3 linked regions of the Homo sapiens genome follow. The protein of the gene in region 3 interacts with the protein of the main gene of each other region in a biochemical or structural test. Each region holds a gene or a part of one and is shown on either strand. Other genes may lie near its edges.

Region 1 (7,027 bases), on a different chromosome or scaffold from region 3:
ACTCTCCCTTTCCCCTTTTGCCCACTTTTTCTCTTTTCTTCTTCAATTGCCCTTTCCTTTTTAAACTTTTTTTCTTACACCTAATTGTCAGTTTAAGGATCTCTATTTGGCCTTGCAGTTAACAGTCCAGCATTTCTTTTCCAAGTGTGACCCCACTTTCTGCCCCCTGATTAAAAAAAAAAAAAAAAAAAAAGTATAGTCAAAGACCATGGTAATCAACAAGACAATTTGTTTGTGCTTCTGAGGAAATTTCACAATTTTCTGAACTCTACAGCTATTACATATTCTGTGTCTTCTCTCTGTTGAGGTCTGGATTTAATGCTTTCTTTGTATTGCTGATCCTTAAGCATGATTAGAGAAAGAATTGAGTCTAACAGAGTTACTTAGCGAAACATAGGAGCATTCCTATCCTTGGTTAAGTCTGAGCACAAAGGCATTCTCCTAATTCTGCATATAATAAAATAGAGGCAGCTGTAGTCCATTCTCTTGGGGAATATAAAGGCTTCCTTTAGCAGAATGGGTTTATGAGTCAGGGAGCCTCACTGAGAGTGTTCAGTAAGGGTATGTTGAATAAATTTTCCAAATCAAAATTACTTTCATCTGAATAGTGCCAGGCCACACTGGTTTGCATGTTTTCTTTTGTTCATTTTCCAGACTTTTTGAAAAGGCCTTTAGAGAGTTATGTGAAAAAACTAAAAGTACCAGTTCATGTAATTCGAATGGAACAACGTTCTGGATTGATCAGAGCTAGATTAAAAGGAGCTGCTGTGTCTAAAGGCCAAGTGATCACCTTCCTGGATGCCCATTGTGAGTGTACAGTGGGATGGCTGGAGCCTCTCTTGGCCAGGATCAAACATGACAGGTAATTTTCTGGTGTCTGTAAGTTTGCTTTTAGTACATTTGTCCTAAACTATATGGTGAGTTGCCAAATTCTATATTTTTTAAATAAATATAAAAGTAATTTCCTCCCAAGTTTGCTTTAAAATATCCGTGAAGAGGACTCTAAAGGAAATATCCAGAAGACCACATTCTGAAGCCTGGCAGGAATGTTTGCAAACTGTTGTACTAATGAGGAGTGATTAGGAAGCATGTCATTGGAATGTATACTATATGCTGTGTTCACCAAGCTGGAGCAGAACAGATAGATGGTGAACTCAGGGAAGACAGCATAAAACCCTTCACTTGTCCTTGCACTCTAAAGCTAATGCTGGAGCAGGCAGATCCTCTCAGCTTGTAGTGCAGCAAGAAGTAGAAGAGAATGGAGAGAAGCACATTGTGTCCTGAAATGCTTAATTTTGTATGGAAAGCACCATAATCTTAGATAATACAGGAAGAACAGTGGTGTAATGAACACCTGTGGTTATAGTTTTTCATGTTACACATTTTTCAAAGAACTCCCTATTTCTGGCTTAGTTCTTGTGCATCAGGAGAGAACCTGACTTCAGTCTGCTAGACCTATGTTGGTTGAATTTCTGCTTGTCATTGTAATTTGAGGTAGAGACTGTCCATGTTTAGATTTTAGTGGAGTGAACTTTTACTAGTCAAGTGGAACACGGTGGGAGCTAAAGCCACAGCATCTATTCTGTTTGATAGCAAATGCTGGATCTATATTTTTTCCCTTTCAAAGATGAATAAATAGGAAAACTCAGCATTGGGCCAATCAATGGGAAAGTAGAGCAGCTTTAGAAAAGAGAACATTGCCCTGAAGAATCAAAAGAATAGGATATCTGTAAATTATTTTCTTTAAATAATAGATGACGTTTTAGGGAATATTTGCTCGCCTGAAGATAACACACAACCCATAGAGAGAAAGCAAGGTGAGGTGATGACAGAAGTATGGAAGGGAGTCAGCTGAAATAGCAACCACAGTGACTTCCAGTTTGGGCTGCATGGTGGATTCGATATTCTGAATAACTTTTCCAACTGAAAAAGCTGGATAAAAGACAAAACAAATTTTAAATGCATCATTGAGTTGGCACAAAAGGAAGAAATTTGCAAATCTCGAAAAGAAGTGAGAGCAAATGTGCAGTCCAAACACTAAAGCCAGCTTTCGCTGGTAGGGTTTCTGCTGAACTTTGGGGTCACTAAGCTTCTGCCTTGAGAGACAAATAAGATGGAAGGATAGGAGACAAAAACCTAGGTCCTGCCTCAGGTGAGAAGGTTAATAGCAAACACCTGTATAAAGCTGGGCTCTTGAAATCTGTATCTTAGTATAAAGCAAGAATGAAAAATTAATCCCACCACATCAGAGAAAACTTGCCTGTCTCAACCTTGGTATGCAGTGGCAGAGGGGAAACAAATCTCCCCTAAGAATTTGTAAACAATATAGAAAAAGAGGAAACGAACCAAACTCTTTTTATGAGGCTGGTATAACTGTGATATGAAAACCAGAAAAGTACTACAAGGAAAATTACAGTGCAAATCTGTTCATGAATGCTAGTACAAAAATCTCACAATACCAGCAAACTAAACCAGCAATATACACACACACACGTGCACGTATGCGTGTAAAAAACATATCATGATATCATGACTGCTTGGTTTAGCGTAATATTACAAAAACTAATTCGTTTAATACATCCCATTAATGTATTTTTAAAACTGTGATTACAAACTTATTAAACACCTCTGATCACTCCCATAGATAATGAAAAAGGGTTCACTGAAATTTAACATGAATTTATTGTTAGAAAATACTTAGCAAACTATTATACAGTGGAAGTTTACTAATCCAAGAAAGGATGGCTTAAAAAAAAAAAAAAAGCCTTTGCAAGCAGAAATCATGTTAATGGAGAAATGTTGGAAGCATTTTTTAAAAAGATGTGGAAGAAGATGTTAATGCCCTCAATCACCAGTTAGTATTATTAGAAGTCTTTCTTAGGTTTTGCAGTACTACAGTAAATAAAGAACATTTATTTATTGGAAAAAGGAAAAGCATTGTTGTCAATTGTGTATGTGTTTGTGAAGAAAACGAATCTATACATAAAATAATAGAAACAATAAGAATTTAGCAATGTTGCCAAACACGAGATTACTATAGAAAAGTTCAGGCTAGAGCAGTGGCTCACGCCTGTAATCCCAGCTCTTTGGGAGACCGAGGTGGGCAGATCACTTGAACCCAGGAGTTCGAGACCAGTCTGGCCAACATGGCGAAACCCCAGCTCTACTAAAAATACAAAAAATTAGGCAGTCGTGGTGGTGCATGCCTATAGTCCCAACTACTTGGGAGGCTGAGTCGGGAGGATCGCTTGAACTCAGGAAGTCAAGGCTGCAATGAGCCAAGAGTGCACCATTGCCCTCTAGCCTGGGCAACAGGAGTGAGACTCCATCTCCAAACAAAAGAATGAAAAGTTTATTTCACACCAACAAGGAATACTTAGAAAATATAATGCAAAAAGAAAAGATACCATTCGTAATAGCAATGGCAGTCATAGACTACACATAGGAATATGTTTATCAAAAGATTTACTGAAATTCACGAAAAAATCTTGAGAGAGAAATGGATAGGAAAGTCAATATCATAAGAGTATCAATTCTACCCAAATTCATATATAAATTCAGTGCATTTCCAATTGAAATCTCCACAGAATTTTCTTTGAGAGACTGTACAGGCCGATTCTAGCATTGATACGGAACTGTAAAAAGAAAAAAAATAGTTGGGATGCTTCTGAAGAAGAATCAGATCTAAGGGGGCTTGCCTTACTAGGCGTCAAGACTTATTTTAAAGCTGTGTTAATTATGGCAGTGGTATATTGATGCAGGAATTCACAAATAGACTAGTGAAACAGGGTAGGGTCTAGAAACCAGCTCATTTTTGTATGTAATCTTGATTTATGACAGAGCAGTCACTCATAGTTACAGCAGAAGAAAAAGGGACCATTACATAAATAGTGGTGGAACAACTGGTTATCCATAGAAGAAATAAATGAAGTTGGATACTTACTGTATATCATAGTTAAAATCAGTCCCTTGAAGATTAAAGTCTTAAATATAAAAAACAAAAAAAAAATTTTTTTAATTAGTTGAGTGTGGTGTTATGTGATCCCAGCCGTGGTCCCAGCTACTCAGGAAGCTGAGGTGGGAAGATCACTTGAGGAGGTCGAGGCTGCAGTGGCCCCTGATTGCACTACTGCATTCCAGCCTGGGTGGTGACAGAGTAGTGATACCCTGTTTCAAGGGAAAAAATAAAAAATAAAAACACTTACTATACAATTGTTCTGTAGTTGGCATTAAACAGGAATGTTTTGAAAGATTTCTTAACTTGCTTTTATGACATCAGGAGAACAGTGGTGTGTCCCATCATCGATGTGATCAGTGATGATACTTTTGAGTACATGGCAGGCTCTGATATGACCTATGGTGGGTTCAACTGGAAGCTCAATTTTCGCTGGTATCCTGTTCCCCAAAGAGAAATGGACAGAAGGAAAGGTGATCGGACTCTTCCTGTCAGGTAATTAATTTGTCAGACATTTTGCCTAAAGTGTTATTGGCAGAAGGTTGTGGAGCTTTGGGAATCATATCAAATGGATAAGTGTATTTTGAGAAACGTGAAGCATTCGTATACCTTATGGTAGTTAACAGCCATCTTTCACATATGTGAGTGTTTTAAAGAAGGATTTCTCCTCTAATAAAATTAGAAATTTTTGCTTATTCTATAAATCTAGTGCACATGAGAAATGATGACATGCGTGTTTTTTCATTCCTTTATGAACATTTTGCAAATGCGTCAGATCTGTACTTTAATTCAGTTATTAAGGATAATAATACTTAGCTTAATTAATTGTGTCAGTATGTGAAGATACTACCTAAAACTGGGTCCTTGCATTAAAATGTACAATTTTAAATTCAGACTTGTACCATCTGGATGACAGTTATTGACTGGTAAAGTTAGAAAAGCTTGTGTAAAACATAAAAATAGCTAGAATTGACACAAAATATAAAAAAATTCATTAATCCATTTATTCTCTGATTTTTTTTCTCTACTTGGTCATATATAGATTTTTTTTTCAGGATGGAATAAAAATCTTCATGCTCTTTTTAGAACATGAAATTGAGACCTTTGAGCTCTTCTGAGCCATCCTAGAATTTAGCCCCATTGTACCGACCTGCTACTTCTGTATTAAGAGTTCCTTCAGAACCAGGCTTCAGCTTTTCTGTTTTTGGGCCTCCTGCGTCTGCCTTCCCTTGAATTCAAGTTCAGTTCTGGCAACACTGAAGAGATTTTCCACTGACTGTGTGCTTTTTTCCTTAGCCTGAGTTCTTAGTAGTAGTAGTGCAAGGGACTTTTCTTCTCTTTAGCTGTTAGTGCAATTCACTATCTAAATCAGGGGTTCCTAAACATTTCAAAAATGACAAAATTTTTTGAAAATCTGGTGAAAGCTATGGGTCTTCTCTAATGGAGAAAAATGCACATGTACATGCAGAAGATTTAGCACACAAAAAACTCAGGTCAAGAAAACCCTGTATTAAATGATAATTCTGAATTTTGGCTGTTTCTTTTAAATCCTTTTCTCATTCTTTTTTTCTTCTAAAATCAAAATAAGTCCAAACCTTTTTTGGAAACAACTGTTTCCTCTGGAAAGGCAATGAGTACATTTTAGGGTTCATCTTAAAATATAATCTTCGTGGTATCTTTGGTCCCTGTAACTTATTTTTTTCTCCTGGTTGGAGTTTACTTTTTCTCCATACTTGTTCTTTATAAAAATCAAATGGGCTGATATTCATTTATTTAAATCTTCCTTCATTTCTTAATAATTTCTCTGCTTAATTTCACATGTTCCCACTCCCTTTGCATACCTGAGCCCTATTTTGATGAATTAGACTCCTCTTTTGCAGAAAATATACCACACAGTCAGGAAGGAACATATTGATTTTATTCTATATTTTGTCTCCTCTCCTTAAAGATTTCTAGTGGGTATTAGGAAAAGACCTCACTGTTTCCATCCAGTTTATCTTATGTATTTATACTATTTGCCACCCTTTAGAACATGGCATGGTAACTCTAACCTCAATCTACTTGGTTAATATAGTCAACTGCCTTGAAGTTGCTAGGATCTGTGGAGTGGGTGCACAGTCAGATGGAGAGGATTGTGAGGAACAGCTTTAATTTAAGGAGTTTGAGATCTAAACTCAGTTAGGACCTGAGGGCCAAGAAAGATAGAAAGTACTCTTAGGACTGTGACAGAGAGGGATGTCTGGGCAGAAGCATGACACAGCAAGTCTAGCAGTCAGCATGACCATGGTGCAGGTCATGTGTGAAGACCAAATAACACAGCATAAAACACAGAAAGCCCCTGGGGCGTATGAAAGTTTATGAAGAGTGTGAGAATAAGTACTTACTCAGTAGTTATAAATAGTTATGAAACAGCTTTTAAAAACAAAAACTGATTGATTGTAAATTTTAAATTGCTAATGGTATAGCATTATTGAATTTCAGGACACCTACCATGGCAGGAGGCCTTTTTTCAATAGACAGAGATTACTTTCAGGAAATTGGAACATATGATGCTGGAATGGATATTTGGGGAGGAGAAAACCTAGAAATTTCCTTTAGGGTAAGTTCCCTTAAAAAAATTTAATCTTTTATTTAACTTCAAGTATAGATGTGCATTGATTATTCATGTATCTCTACATAAAAAATAAAAATTGAATTTAATACAAGTTTAATGTAACTTCAGAGCCTTCAGTCCATAAAAAGGACTGATAGTAAGGGTTCATTATAAACTATTGAAGCAAATAATTTAGTTACCTTTGAAGTTCAGCTATAAAACTTACACAAGATTCCCTAGTTGTTTTTAATTTTTATTATTTTCAAGGAAGTAATTTAAGCTCTAAAAGCTAATATATAGTTTGGATATGCTACTTTGCTGCTTTACTCTCAAAAACATAAATTTCACATTTAAACATAAATTTCACATTTTGTAATATGCTTTTTATTTTAGTGTGAAAATTTTTTTTATATAAAACCTAGTCACTTTACCAGCTTTATATTTTTCAATAAAAATGCGAAAGAATTCTAAAATGACTC
Region 2 (7,027 bases), on a different chromosome or scaffold from region 3:
GTGTTGCCCAGGTTGGTCTCAAGCTCCTGACCTCAAACAATCCTCCTGCCTCAGGCTCAGAAGCAGCTAAGACTACAGGCACAAGCCATTGTGTCCAACTCTCCAGTCAAATTCTATAGCCTTAGCTTTTAATTACTATGTAGGCTGGGCACAGTGGCTCATGCCTGTAATCCCAGCACTTTGTGAGGTCGAGGCGGGTGGATCACGAGGTCAGGAGATCGAGACCATCCTGGCTAACACAGTGAAACCCCGTCTCTACTAAAAATAAAAAAAATTACCCAGGCGTGGTGGCAGGCACCTGTAGTCCCAACTACTCGAGAGGCTGAGGCAGGAGAATGGCGTGAACCTGGGAGGCGGAGCTTGCAGTGAGCCGAGTTTGCACCACTGCACTCCTGCCTGGGCAACAGAGCGAGACTCCATCTCAAAAAAAAAAAAAAATTCTATGTAGTGTTTTATTTTTCTGCAAATAGCCAACATTAAAAACAATTACACTATAATCCCAGGACTTTGGGAGGCTGAGACAGGAGGACTGCTTTTGCTCAGGAGTCAGAGGCCAACCCTGGGCAATATGGAGAAACCCAGTCTCTACAATACCAAAAAAAAAAAAAAAAAATTAGCCAGGTGTAGTGGCACATGCCTGTAGTTCCAGCTACTTGGGAGGTTGAGGCGGGAGGATCACTTGAGCCCAGGAGGTTGAGGCTGCAGTGAGCTGTATTGTCAGCACAGCACTACAGGCTGGGCAACAGAGTAAGACCCTGTGTCTCTAAAAAGAAAATAGGGCTTGGCGTGGTGGCTCACGCCTGTAATCCCAGCACTTTGGGAGGCCAAGGCGGGTGGATCACAAGGTGAAGAGATAGAAACCATCCTGGCCAACGTGGTGAAACCCCGTCTACTAAAAATACAAAAATTAGCTGGGCTTAAAGATTCACTGGGTACAGCCAAGTCCATTCCGCTTGTATACGGGGAGCAGAGAAGAAAAGGTGACTTGCCCAAGGTCATAATTCTAGGGTTAACACCCAATCCAACCATCTTTCTCCCTCACCATTGAAACGTCCTATATTACTATCCATTTTGCTGAATCAGAAAACTGACTTCTACAAAAAATTAAGGAATTATTTCAAAATCACAGTTATCCAAAATGCAATTATTTACAACGTCAAAATTTGGTGGTGGCGTGCGCCTGTAGTCCCAGCTACTCAGGAGGCTGAGGCAGGAGAATCGCTTGAACCCAGGAGGTGGAGATTGCAGTGGGCTGAGATAGCACCACTGCACTCCAGCCTGGGCAACAGAGCAAGACTCCGTCTAAAAAAAAAACAACAAAAACCAGAGAGTCTGTAAAAAGAAAATAGGCCAGACACAGTGGCTCAGGCCTGTAATCCCAGCACTTTGAAAGGCAGAGGCAGGTGGATCACTCAAGCCCACGAGTTCAAGACCAGCCTAGGCAACTCCTGGGTTCAAGTGATCTCAGCCTCCCAAGCAGCTGGGATTACATGTGCCTGGCTAATTTTTGTATTTTTAGTAGAGATGGGGTTTCACCATATTGGCCAGGCTGTTCTCTTGGCCAGGCTGGTCTCGAACTACTGACCTCGTTATTCGCCTGCCTCAGCCTCCCAAAGTGCTGAGATTACAGGCATGAGCCACTGTGCTCGGCCTAATTTTTGCATTTTTAGTAGAGACGGGGTTTCACCATGTTGGCCAGGCTGGTCTCAAACTCCTGACCTCAGGTGATCCACCTGCCTCGGCCTCCCAAAGAAAAATGCACCTTTAAGTTTAAATAGAACACATTGAAGCACAGTAACATCAGAATGTAGTGACCTGGGACACTGTCCTCATGCCACTCATATATCAGCCTGATCTAGAAGCAACACATTATTATTACAACACTGTAGTGAAAGGATCTCATTATGTTCACTGCTGAGGAGTGGGTCCTATAGGAAGACTCACAAAAACAAAACATTATGGGAACCATTTGCTTTGTAAATTTAAACTGAATGCCTATAAACTCAATTCTAGAAATTGCTAACACTTTTAAATATGAACACATAGCTCACTATTTGTGAAACAAATACAGGAGTATCTCCACTCAAATCATGGGTGAGAGAACAAGGTTGGACACCCTAAAGACGGAAGACATGTGCTTCCTCTGGCCACTGTGTTCCCAAGAACTTCTATAACTTGAAAGCCATCTGGTCTGAACCAGTTAAAATTGCAAAGTAGAGGAACTTGCCCTCTGAGTTAGTTCAGTGCCCTTCCAACTCCAGAATGGGCTGTTTCCCCATCTGGGAACAAGGTAAACAACATATGAGTCCCAACAAGATAAGAGAGAAAAAGTGAAGATCCCAGCTGGTGAGATTAAGAGTGGAGGCAAGGAGACAAAATTGTGAGGCAAGAGGCTGGAGTAATTGTAGACAAGCCTTGGTCCATAATATGCCCCACTCCACTCCTAAAACAAGTGGGGATGAGGGGAGTTCTCCAGGCTATTACATTTACACACCTTCCTGCCAACACAAGCTGATGTCTGTGCTCTAGATCCTGAAGATTTGTTTCCATAAGTAGCAAGAACAGATTTAAGGGTAGGAAAAACAGAAAGCACATCTGGAAGAAATTCAAGCTGTGCTTATCTCTTTGAGTCACTCTTCACTTCCTACTCCAGTCTCAGAACAAAGATTCCTGACATAAAATCACTGCCCTTAAGACAAGAGCTTGCTCCCAAGCAATCCCCCGCCTCAGCCTCCTGAGTAGCTGGGACTACAGAGATGCGTCACTATACCTTGCTCTTTTTCCTTTTTTTTTTTCAGACAGAGTCTCGCTCTGTCGCCAGGCCGGAGTGCAATGGCATGATATCAGCTCACTGCAACCTCCGCCTCCGGGGTTCAAGTGATTCTCCTGCCTCAGCCTCCTGAGTAGCTGGGACTACAGGCGCGTGCCACCATGCCCGGCTAATTTTTGTAGTTTTAGTAGAGGTGGGATTTCACCATGTTGGCCAGGATGGTCTCAGTCTCTTGACCTTGTGATCCGCCCACCTCAGCCTCCCAAAGTGCTAGGATTACAGGCGTGAGCCACTGCCCCCAGCCACCTTGCTCTTTTCATCTCCCCAAGAACTACCTGGAGGATGAAAACACTGAACAATGGTGTGGCCCTGAACCTAATCAATGGAATTGGTCTGTCTGTCAATATAGTACCTCTTAATTTTAAATGCAAAAGCTTCATTTTTAATGCTCTATCCAGTTCTAAACAGACTTTTGCAACCTAACACAAGATTTCAATCATCACTGTTTCCACAGCAAAATACATTCCAAATTCCCAACTTACAAACTTGAGGACCCAAACTGATCTTCACCTGGTGACTTCCCTGTACTCATGTTTTGGTGTTTTCTAGTCTAACTATATTAAGCTTTCCATTTTAGTAAAAAGGTTAAATCTCAGCATCTAATATTAATCCCACTGGTACATAAGTTTCAGGTATGTGATTAAAAACCAATGCAATACGCATTTTACAACATTTTTCCCTTCTGATTTAAGAAAACAATTAGCTTATTCCTTAGCTCACCATACATTTTTAAAAACCCAAACTTTTTTTTTTTTTTTTCCCTGAGACAGAGTCTAGCTCCATTGCCCAGGCTGGAGTGCAGTGGCCCAATCTCAGCTCACTGCAACCTCTGCCTCCCGGTTCAAGTGATTCTCATGCCTCAGCCTCCCGAGTAGCTGGGACTATAGGTGCACGCCACCACACCCAGCTAATTTTTTTATTTTTTGTAGAGACGAGGTTTCACCATGTTGGCCAGGCTGGTCTCGAACTCCCAACCTCAGGTGATCCGCCTGCCTCAGCCTCCCAAAGTGCTGGGATTACAGGCGTGAGCCACCATGCCCGGCCAGAAAACTAAACTCTTAAAAACTTGTACTAAATCTTAATAGCATTTTCTAGTTTACAATGAATGTCCCAATAATAAACTACAAAGCTCCACACATGTGTATGCTCAAAAAATATCTCGTGTAGGTACACTTTTAAAGTCAATGCTTTCACATAAAATTTGCAAAGTTTCCAAATGAGGAAAATACGAGCAAGCTGTTGAGTAAAACAACCTTCACCATCAGACACTGCTGCAAAGTGACGGCATTCACTTACTGGCTCTGTGTATTCTCTCCCGGACTTCCATGTATTCCTGTTCGTGCTTTACAGCTGTCATCGCCACTGCTAGCTCATTGATCATTTCTTCTAGCTTGTTCTGGTGAGCTATAGAAGGATTTGAAAACAAAACACATTTGTCAATGTCTTTTTTTTTTTTTTTTTGAGACAGAGTCTCGCTCTGTTGCCCAGGCTGGAGTGCAGTGGTGCTCAATCTCAGCTCACTGCAACCTCTGCCTCCCAGGCTGAAGCGATTCTCCTGCCTCAGCCTCCAGAGTAGCTGGGATTACAGGCACACGCTGCCACACCCAGCTAATTTTTGTATTTTTAGTAGAGACGGGGTTTCACCATGTTGGTCAGGCTGGTCTTGAACTCCTGACCTCAGGTGATCCACCTGCTTGAGCCTCCCAAAATGCTGGAATTACATGCGTGAGCCACTGCACCCAGCCATCTTTTTTTTTTTTCAAGACAGGATCTCACTCTATCACCCAGGCTCAAGTACAGTGGTGCAATTATAGCTCACTGTAACCTAAAATTCCTGGGCTCAAGCAATCCCCTGCCTCAGCCTCCTGAGGGGTGCGTCACTATGCCTGACTACCATTTTATTTTTATTTTTTAGAGACGGGGTCTCGCTATGTTGCCTAGGCTGGGGCAATCTCTTTTTGAAAAACACTTATAAAATAAATATAAAATATAAAATAATATAAAATAACTTTTCAAAATCCTCAGAGAAGGCCTGCAAAAGAAGCTACTTTTGAAATGGTTCAAACATCAATTTGGACTACTGATATGAATCATGTCAATTTAATTCTCAAAGCATTTTTAAAAGTCCCTTCCCAGTAGAGAAACCTCTTTCAGGGTAGGAAACATACTATATAATGCTTACTAAGGAAAGGAAAACAACCCCAGGAAATTTCTTCTAATGGAATGTTGTTATGTGAAGTTCACTATACTGACTATTAACTACAGCAAAAGTAGTAAAACACTGAGGAGAGGGGACTAAGAGCACAAAATAAATACCTGTATTTTTAAAATGTAATCCTACAAATAAAGTCTAAGAGTCATGTAACTCTAATATTAATTAAGAAGCAGGAGCAGCACCAAAACAGACTCTTAATCTCTATAAAGCTGAGCAGAGAAAAACATTAAAACGCTCTTAGGAAAATCCACACCAACTCAAACATTCTTCTTTGACAAAGTAATAGTTTCACTATAGTGGGGAACAGCAGGCAATGTAAGTAGAGAGACAAGCCCTTAGCGGCACAAGTTTTCAACCAGGCATCCCTCTTGAACCAAAAATACACACAAGGCACTGTTCTGAAGAGTAAGCATGTGCTTCTAGGTAGTGCCACGTTATGAGAATGAACAGACAGGCAGGAGAGAAACAGCACCAGGAAACCTTCCTGGGAAAGGGGGATCTCTTCATCCCTGCCCAAGACTGGGTCTCTTCTGGGATTCCAGATTCTCGCAGACAACCCCAAGTTTCTTAGGAGAAACCAAGGGCCTCTACCATTGAAGGCAGTTGAATTGGAATGTCAAACCGTCCCTCACTCGAAATTTCCCTTTGGAAGCCCCATGCACCACATGGAACTGATAGAGCAGGGTTTCTCAGCAGTGGCATTGTCTCCATTTTGGACCAAATGCTTTTCTATGCTGTGGGGCGCTATCTGATGCACTATAGGGTATTTAGCAGCCTCCATGGCCTCCAGTCCTAGATGCCTGTAGCACCTACCCCCAGTCTTCCGAATAAAAAATACCTCCAGATATTGCCAAATATCCCCTGGGCATCCTCACTTGAGAACCACTGCTTTAGAGGAAGGCTTGATTTGACAGCTGCCATTCACTGACATTAACAAGCAAAAGCAAGAATTTTGGATATATGTTAAAAAATTATCTAAGAAGTTCAATATTCACATTCATCAACCAACATTTTCAAACTATTTAAGTAGGATCAAACTCCAGAAAATAAACCAAAAAAGCCTTTCAGAACTCCTCATTCTCCCTGAAAATTAGTCAAGTCCTACCCTATAAGTGGCCCTGAAAAATGAGTGCAGGAATTACTAAGTAGTAGGACTCTCTAAATTCTATAGATTTCAAAATCCAACCAAACAACTCAGCTTCTTTATGATGTTAACACTCTACTGATACTGAATATCTGGGAGAAATGTTACCACGCTAATAGTATACTATGAAATGTGTGAAACAATGACTAGCTTCAAAAACTCTGGCATGCACTGTGGGGAAAAAAAAAACAAAAAAAAACACCACCAAATGTGCTGGCTCCCGGTAAGCAATTTATCCAGAACCACCAAGAACCAATCAGGGTTTATTACTGGTAACCTGAGCAATGAACACTCTAACTGCAACATATGGCTAAAAGAACTCTTGTCTTCATATCAACATATGGCTCCTAGAACTGCATTTCATATCCAACTAAGCTTCAGGTTAAGAAGTCTACAAAATGACTTTCTACAAAGTCAAAGGCACCATTTGCTATGAGCTATGTTTAATTGGGACTTCTGTCCCCTTATCATTGAATTTCCACTCTTTAGCATTCATCTTAAAGAACAAAGATGTTACTACTAAAATGTCAACTGTGTTTTCAGTGCTATTAGTTTAAAATAACCTAACCTATACCTCCTGTCAACGAAATAAAAAACCACCAAAAAAAATATCAATCCAATTAGTTGTAGGGGTTTTTTAAGAGAAAAAAACACTCTCATGCCAACAAACTGAGGTTAGAAAAAAGAAAGCAGAAATTAGACATTAGCAAACAAAAAGATGCAAAAAGGATGCTGTCAAAAAGCAATCCACATACCATCCCAGGTATCTCCACCACCTAAAGAAAAGTTAAGATATCTTAACACAAAAAGAACCAACAAAAAGTTTAGCTAAACTAGT
Region 3 (7,027 bases):
TCGGTTATATGAAATACTATGCCATTTTGTATGAGGGACTTGAGTATCTATGGAATTTGGTATTGGGAGGAGTGGTCTTGGAACCAATCTCACAGATACCGAGGGCCGACTGTACTAAGGATGAAGCTTTCTTTGCCTTAAGCTCATCTCCTTATCGACATTTCTTTTGCAACCCCTGATCCTGTTCATTCACTTGTTTATTGAGCACCTTCTTGTGCAAGTGAGGGGTTCTAAGGATAAAGACAGTGACATTGCTCTCACCTTCCCAAAGTCCTGAGCGTGCTGAACGCGAGTGTTCTTATGAACTTCTGGACCCTGGTGAGCTCGTGGGCATTTCCCATAGGCCAACAGTCAATCACAGCATTTAGACCTGGAAAACGGTAACTGCTACTTTGAGAAGGAGTGAGCAGGCTACAGAAGGAGGCATCTGATGAGAATCCTCTGCCTGGAGCCATATTAATGGCTCTGTTAAGACACATTGCACACTTGCTGTAGCCTCTTTCTCCATTTTTCCTCTCCATTGTCTTCTTGTTCTCCTAAATAACATGCGAAAGCACTTCACTTTATTTATAAAGGTATATGAATCAGTTAATGAATGTTTCTTGATTTCCTGTGTATACAAGATATTTTCTAGACCAGTTGTGGATGAGTATAAAAGAAGGAAGGGTGATAAAATGTGTAGCGTAGTCAGGGAGACAGATCGTCTGCTTTCCACAGTTTAGCATATGGCTTCTCCTCACTGCCTCATCAACACTCATACTTTGATTCTTACAGCTTTTGTCTCCTTTGCCAAGGGTACCCCAATTCAGGGCCCAGGGGGAGCAGGGGATGGGGGTGAGACAATTGCACGCAAGTCTGTATGACTACTGCTCACCAGAGGAGTGTAATATGTGTGCCGTTAGGAAAGGAGATGGGGGAGTGGAGTCTGTGTGGGCAGCCAACAAATCCCTTTCCTTACCAGATGTGCGGAGATGAGAGGCTAGACTGAGTGATAACAGTGGAAGTGGAAAAGGAGGGAGTCCACCGCTCCTTGGGATGAGTAATCCATGGGCTTTGTTAACTAGTTGATATAGAAGAGAGGAGGCATGAGTGACGCCTGACATTCCTGGGGGAATGCGCAGGCGGGGGCATTTTCCTCCTGCTTCTCCTCCTGCCGGTAGCTCTGCTTTGCTCTCCCTCTGAAGCTTGTCATTTTTGATATTAGACTTCTTCACTAGAAACAAGCTCTGGGTGGCGATGGTAGAATGTCAGTGTCAGTGAAGGCTGTTATTACAGTTTCCACAATAGTTTTGGTTGGTTTGTTTCTGTGTAGACCATAGCCCAGTGGCGTAAAGCTGGCTACCAGGACATGCCCGAGTATGAAAACTTCAAGCACCTTCTGCAGGCACCACTGGATGATGCTCAAGAAATTCTGCAAGCACGCTTCCCGATGCCACGTTACATCAACACGGAGCATGGAGGCAGTCAGGTGAGTGAGCTGAGTTCTAACTCCAGTGGTTTGTTCGTTTTATGATAGATTGTTATTGCTATACATCTAAACAGGATGGTTAATATTTTATGTGATGACATAAATTGACACACAGGTAATCTTCCAAATATGACTTCTTTTTAAATGAGTGGTCAGGCCAAGCGCGGTGGCTCACACCTGTAATCCCAGCACTTTGGGAGGCCGAGGCGGGCGGATCATGAGGTCAGGAGATCGAGACCATCCTGGCTAACATGGTGAAACCCCGTCTCTACTAAAAATACAAAAAATTAGCTGGGCGTGGTGGCGGGCACCTGTAGTCCCAGCTATTCGGGAGGCTGAGGCAGAAGAATGGCGTGAACCCGGGAGGCAGAGCTTGCAGTGAGCTGAGATCGTGCCACTGCACTCCAGCTGGGGCTACAGAGTGAGACTCCGTCTCAAAAAAAAAAAAAAAATGAGTGGTCAAAATGTGCTTATGTAAAGGGATTGCCAAGATAAAATACATATTTTATGTTTTAGGATCCTTAAATGGAGAGCCAGTGGGCTTAAGCTAAAGAAATAGATTACTGTGCAGTAAAACAATTCTAATTAGATTACTGTGCAGTAAAACAATTCTAATTTAACCAAACAAATGTTGTAAAAACTTATCTTTTTTCTGTTACATTAATATTAATGTCACTTTTTAATCTTTAAATCTTTTTGTTGTTGTTGTTGTTAAAGGCTCGATTCCTTTTGTCCAAAGTGAACCCATCTCAGACACACAATAACCTGTATGCTTGGGGACAGGTAAGAAATCTTCAGGTATTTGGGGAGGATGCTAAGCTAGTTTTTTTTTAAACTTGTTTTAAAATTCTACAAATTGGATCTCTTTTGGCCTGGAGACAGAATAACTGCGTAAGTTGGGTATTTTGCTGGGGAGTGGCGGGGAGGGAAACAAGTTGAATAACATTACTGGGCCGGAGGTTGAGGGGGCTCCCTGGGTGTGTCCCCTTCCACAATATACAGCAGAACATACCAGGTTCAGGCCAGGGGACAGAGCACTGTACTGTGGCCTCCATGGTGGTGTCCTCCGTCACACAGCCTCATGGCCCCTAGTCCTCTCCCCACCAAGAATACAGGGCAACTTGTCACCATCGGTTTTGCCGCCTCCTCACTTTCCAGCCTAATTCCTTCCCTTTTCTTCCCCCAACCCCGCCTGATTACTACTTTATCTAACTGCTCCCAGCATTTATGTCTCTCTCAGATGAGTCTTTCCTTTCATTCTGTTTTCTTAAAACATTTTTAAATTAAATTTTTTTGAGATATTGTAAATTTACATATAGTTGTAAGAAATAATACAGAGAGATCACCTGTATCTTTTACCCATTTTCCCTTAGTGTTAACATCTTGCAAAAACTATAATACAGTATCACAACCGGGATATTGAGATTTTTAAGGTCAAGATGTGCAGCATTTCCATCACCACACTTATGCACTTTATTTCTATTATTGTTACATTGTAATATATAATGAAATAATTGTACAACTCACCATAATGTAGAATCAGTGGGAGCCCTGAGCTTGTTTTCCTGCAACTAGATGGTCCCAGCTGGGGGTGACGGGAGACGGTGACAGATCATCAGGCATTAGATTCTCATGAGGAGCATGCAACCTAGATCCCTCACATGCGTTGTTCACAATAGGGTTTGCACTCCTATTAGAATCTAATACTGCTACTGATCTGATGGGAGGTGGAGCTCAGGTGGTAATGCACGTGATGGGGGAGCAGCTGTAAATACAAATGAAGCTTCACTTACTTACCTGCCACTCACCTGGTGTGTGGCCTGGTTCCTAACAGGCCAAGGACTGGTACTATCCGTGGCCTGCAGTTGGGGACCCCTGATTTAAAGTGTATGGGAGGGTATGCATAGGTTATATGCAAATGCTACACCATTTTGTATTAGGGACTTGAGCATTTGTGGATTTGGGGATCCACAGGAGGTCCTAAAACCATTCCCCCACAGATACTGAGGGATGACTGTATATAGAAATACAATTGACTTTGGTATGTTTATCTTGTATTCTGTGACCTTCCTGAGTCGCTTACTACTCTTAGGAGTTTTTTTGTAAACTTCTCAGAAATTTCTACTTAGACAATCATGTCATCTGCAAGCCGGGGACAGTTTTATTTCTTCCTTTTCAATCTGAATAACTTTTACTTTATTTTCTCAAAGAATCAGCTCTTCATTTCATTGACTTTATTATCTTTTTATTTTCAATTTCATTGATTGCTGCTCTAGTCATTGTTATTTCCTCTCTCCTGTTTGCAGTAGGTTTTTAAAAACTCTTGGCTGGGTGCGGTGGCTCACGCCTGTAATCCCAGCACTTTGGGAGGCCAAGGTAGGCAGAACACGAGGTCAGGAGTTCGAGACCAGCCTAGCCAACACGGTGAAACCCCCGTCTCTACCAAAAATACAAAAATTAGCTGGTGTGGTGGCATGCGCCTGTAGTCCCAGCTACTTGGGTGGCTGAGGCAGGAGAATTGCCTGAACCCAGGAGGCGGAGGTTGCAGTAAGCTGAGATCACGCCACTGCACTCCAGCCTGGGCAACAGAGCAAGACGCTATCTTGAAAAACAAAAAGAAGTGAATTTATTATAGACAGCTTATAGTTGGGTCATGGTTTTTAATGCACTCTGCTGAGCTCTCTTACTTGGTATATTTAGACCATTTATATATAATGTAATTAATGATATGTTAGGGCTTAAGTGTGCCATTTTATTTTTTGTTTTCTGCTTTTCTTTTTTCATCTTACGTACTTTTTTCCTGCCTTCCCATGAGTTATTTGAACATGTTTTAGGATTCCCTTCTGACTTGTTTGTAATGTTTTTGAGTGTATCTCCTTATTTAGCTTTTTAAGTGGTTGCTCCTAAGTGCCCTAGGTTTTTTTATTTTAATTGAGATGAGGTCTTGCTATGTTGCCTAGGCTGGTCCTAAACTCCTGAGGTCAAGCGATCCTCCCACCTCAGCCTCCCAAAGTGCTGGGATTATAGGCATGAGCCACCACACCTGGCCAGGCCCTAGGTATTACATCATATATGCATAACTTATCACAGTCTACTGGTGTTCAAGCGAAGTCTAGAGACCTTACCTCCCTTTTCAACACTTTACTCTCCTCCATCGGTAATATAATTATGTTAAATATTTCCTCTGCATACATTTAGTATCACATCAGACAGTGTTATAATTTTTGTTTCAAGCATCAAACATAATTGATAAGTCTTAAAAGAAAAACCTATTATATTTCTCTACATGGTTGCTTTTATTGTTTTCTTTCTTTTTAGAGATCTTTTAGCCATTCTTTTTTTCTTTTTTCTTTTCTTTTTTTTTTTTTTTTGTTTTTTTGAGATGGAGTTTTGCACTTGTTGCCCAGGCTGGAGTGCAATGGTGTGATCTCAGCTCACCGCAACCTCCGCCTCCAGGTTCAAGCAATTCTCCTGCCTCAGCCTCCCGAGTAGCTGGGATTACAGGCATGCACCACCACGCCTGACTAATTTTGTATTTTTAGTAGAGACAGGGTTTCTCCATGTTGGTCAGGCTGGTCTCGAACTCCTGACCTCAGGTGATCCGCCCGCCTCAGCCTCTGAAAGTGCTGGGATTACAGGCATGAGCCACCGCGCCTGGCCTACTTTTAACCATTCTTTTAGCATAGGTCTTCTGGTGATAGATTTTTAGTTTTCTTTTATTTGAGAATGTCTTGACGTCCCTTTCATTTCTGAAGAATATTTTCTCTGCATATAGGATTCTGACTAACAGCCCTTTTCTTTAAGCAGTTGAAAAATATTGTGCTGCTTCCTCTGGCCTTTATGGTTTCTTATGAAAAGTTCACTGTCAGTCTCATTGTTTTCCCCTGTAGAGAAGGTGTCATTTTCCTCTGGCTGCTTCCAGTAGTCTTTTTCTGTTGTTAGTTTTCAGGGTGGATGGGCAGGGGCAGAGAAGAAAGTGTAATTATGACATGTCTTGGCATGGATTTCTGTGGGTTTATCCTGTTTTGATTTACTCAGCTTTTTGCTTCTGTAGGTTTCTATCTCTTGCCAAATAGGAAAGTTTTCAGTCCTTATTTCTTTGAATGCCTTTTCACCTGCTCTCTTTTCTTTCTTTCTTGACATCCAGTGACATGAATGTTAGATCTTTTGCAGTACCCCAGGTACTACATTTCCATGTATTTTCTTTCTTTTGTTCATTTGGGTAACTTCTATTGTTTTGTCTTCCAATGTATTGATTCTTTTTTCTGTTCTCTTTCTGCATTGAACCTATGCACTGCGCTTTTTGTTTGTCACTGTATTTTTCAGTTACAAAATTTCCTTTTGGTTCTCCGTGACTTCCACTTCTTTCCTGGGACCTTGTTGTTTCTTTGCTGAGGCTTCCTATTTTTTCATTTGTTTCAAGTGTGTTTGTAATTGCTCATGAAGCATTTTTATCATGGCTGTTTTAAAATCTTTGTCAGGTGATTCTAACATTGTTGTCAACTTAGTGTTAACACCTGTCACTTGTCTTTTTTAATTCAGGTGGAGGTCTTGGTAATCACTTTGTGTAAGTGATTTTTTTATTGAAACTTGGACACTTGAGTGTTTGTATGAGACCCTGGATCTTATTTAAACCTGCTACTTTTCGCTGATTTTTTCTTACACTACTCTGACAGGGAAGGTGGTTGGTGGGGGGGGTGTCGGGGGCACTGGTGGGCTCCATTACTGCCAGGTGGAGAAGTCCAGGTTTTCCACTGGCCTCTGTTGACACCTCGGGGTGTCTAGTGATTTCTTGTTACTGCTTAGTGGGAATGAGAGTTCCAGCTCCCCCATAGCCTCCAGTGAGACCGCTGTGGAGATGGCCTTGTTACACTTGGGTGATGGTGAAAGTCCTGACCCTCCTCCAGGCCTCTGAGGCCACCCCAGTAGGCAGGCGGAGGGACATATATTTTGCCAGGTTGCGGTGGAAGTCCAGGCTCCCCAAATGGCCTCTACTGACACCACAGGGGTAGGAAAATTTTTTTACTTGGCCATTGGGGATGAACTTCCTGGTTCCATACTTAGCCTTCTCTGGCACCATCTTGGTGGGAGTATTAGGGTGCCTTGTTACTGCCTTGTGAGGGTAGAAATTGTAGCTGCCCACCCAGCCTTTGCTGGTTCAGGTGGGTCAGGGCCACAGTTTTTCCTCTCATTTTTGCCCGGAGTACAGTGGTTATTATCTAAGATTGTTCTGTCTTGCTAGGCTGCTTTAGTCCTTTGGCTAGAGAAAGTGGGTGTTTTTTGTTGTTTTGTTTTGTTTGAGTCTGTGCTCAATGACAATTTGCCAGCTTCCTCAGCTCCAAATTCAGAGTATATGAGGCATAAGAAAGCCCAAGGAACTCACTGCTGTGCATCCTTGGGTCCCAAGGTCTTTAGTTTTTCTGTCTTCTCTCCACCTTTAAAAGTCTTCTTATGTTTGGTTTACATAAGATGCCCGAAGTTTTCAGTTGTACTTAGTGGGAGGAATAGAGAAAAGTATATATTCTATTCCTTCCTCGAAATCCTCTGAAAACATTTTGA

The links. The genes of interacting proteins can lie anywhere in the genome.
Region 1: the proteins of SEC23B (region 3) and GALNT1 interact in a test that uses a peptide from one of them, tested with the Homo sapiens proteins (one study listed by BioGRID).
Region 2: the proteins of SEC23B (region 3) and TMED2 interact in a test that uses a peptide from one of them, tested with the Homo sapiens proteins (one study listed by BioGRID).

Annotation. Positions count from the first base shown.
Region 1 is NC_000018.10:35,682,737-35,689,763, forward strand, and holds part of GALNT1 (polypeptide N-acetylgalactosaminyltransferase 1), read left to right. Parts: intron 1-654; coding exon 655-862; intron 863-3,330; exon of another isoform or gene 3,331-3,635; intron 3,636-3,943; exon of another isoform or gene 3,944-4,195; intron 4,196-4,279; coding exon 4,280-4,450; intron 4,451-6,436; coding exon 6,437-6,554; intron 6,555-7,027. UniProt on the Homo sapiens protein: Catalyzes the initial reaction in O-linked oligosaccharide biosynthesis, the transfer of an N-acetyl-D-galactosamine residue to a serine or threonine residue on the protein receptor.
Region 2 is NC_000012.12:123,587,549-123,594,575, reverse strand, and holds part of TMED2 (transmembrane emp24 domain-containing protein 2 isoform 1 precursor), read right to left. Parts: intron 6,966-7,027; coding exon of another isoform or gene 6,945-6,965; intron 4,235-6,944; coding exon 4,127-4,234; intron 1-4,126. UniProt on the Homo sapiens protein: Involved in vesicular protein trafficking. Mainly functions in the early secretory pathway but also in post-Golgi membranes.
Region 3 is NC_000020.11:18,552,923-18,559,949, forward strand, and holds part of SEC23B (protein transport protein Sec23B), read left to right. Parts: intron 1-1,312; coding exon 1,313-1,468; intron 1,469-2,185; coding exon 2,186-2,251; intron 2,252-7,027. UniProt on the Homo sapiens protein: Component of the coat protein complex II (COPII) which promotes the formation of transport vesicles from the endoplasmic reticulum (ER).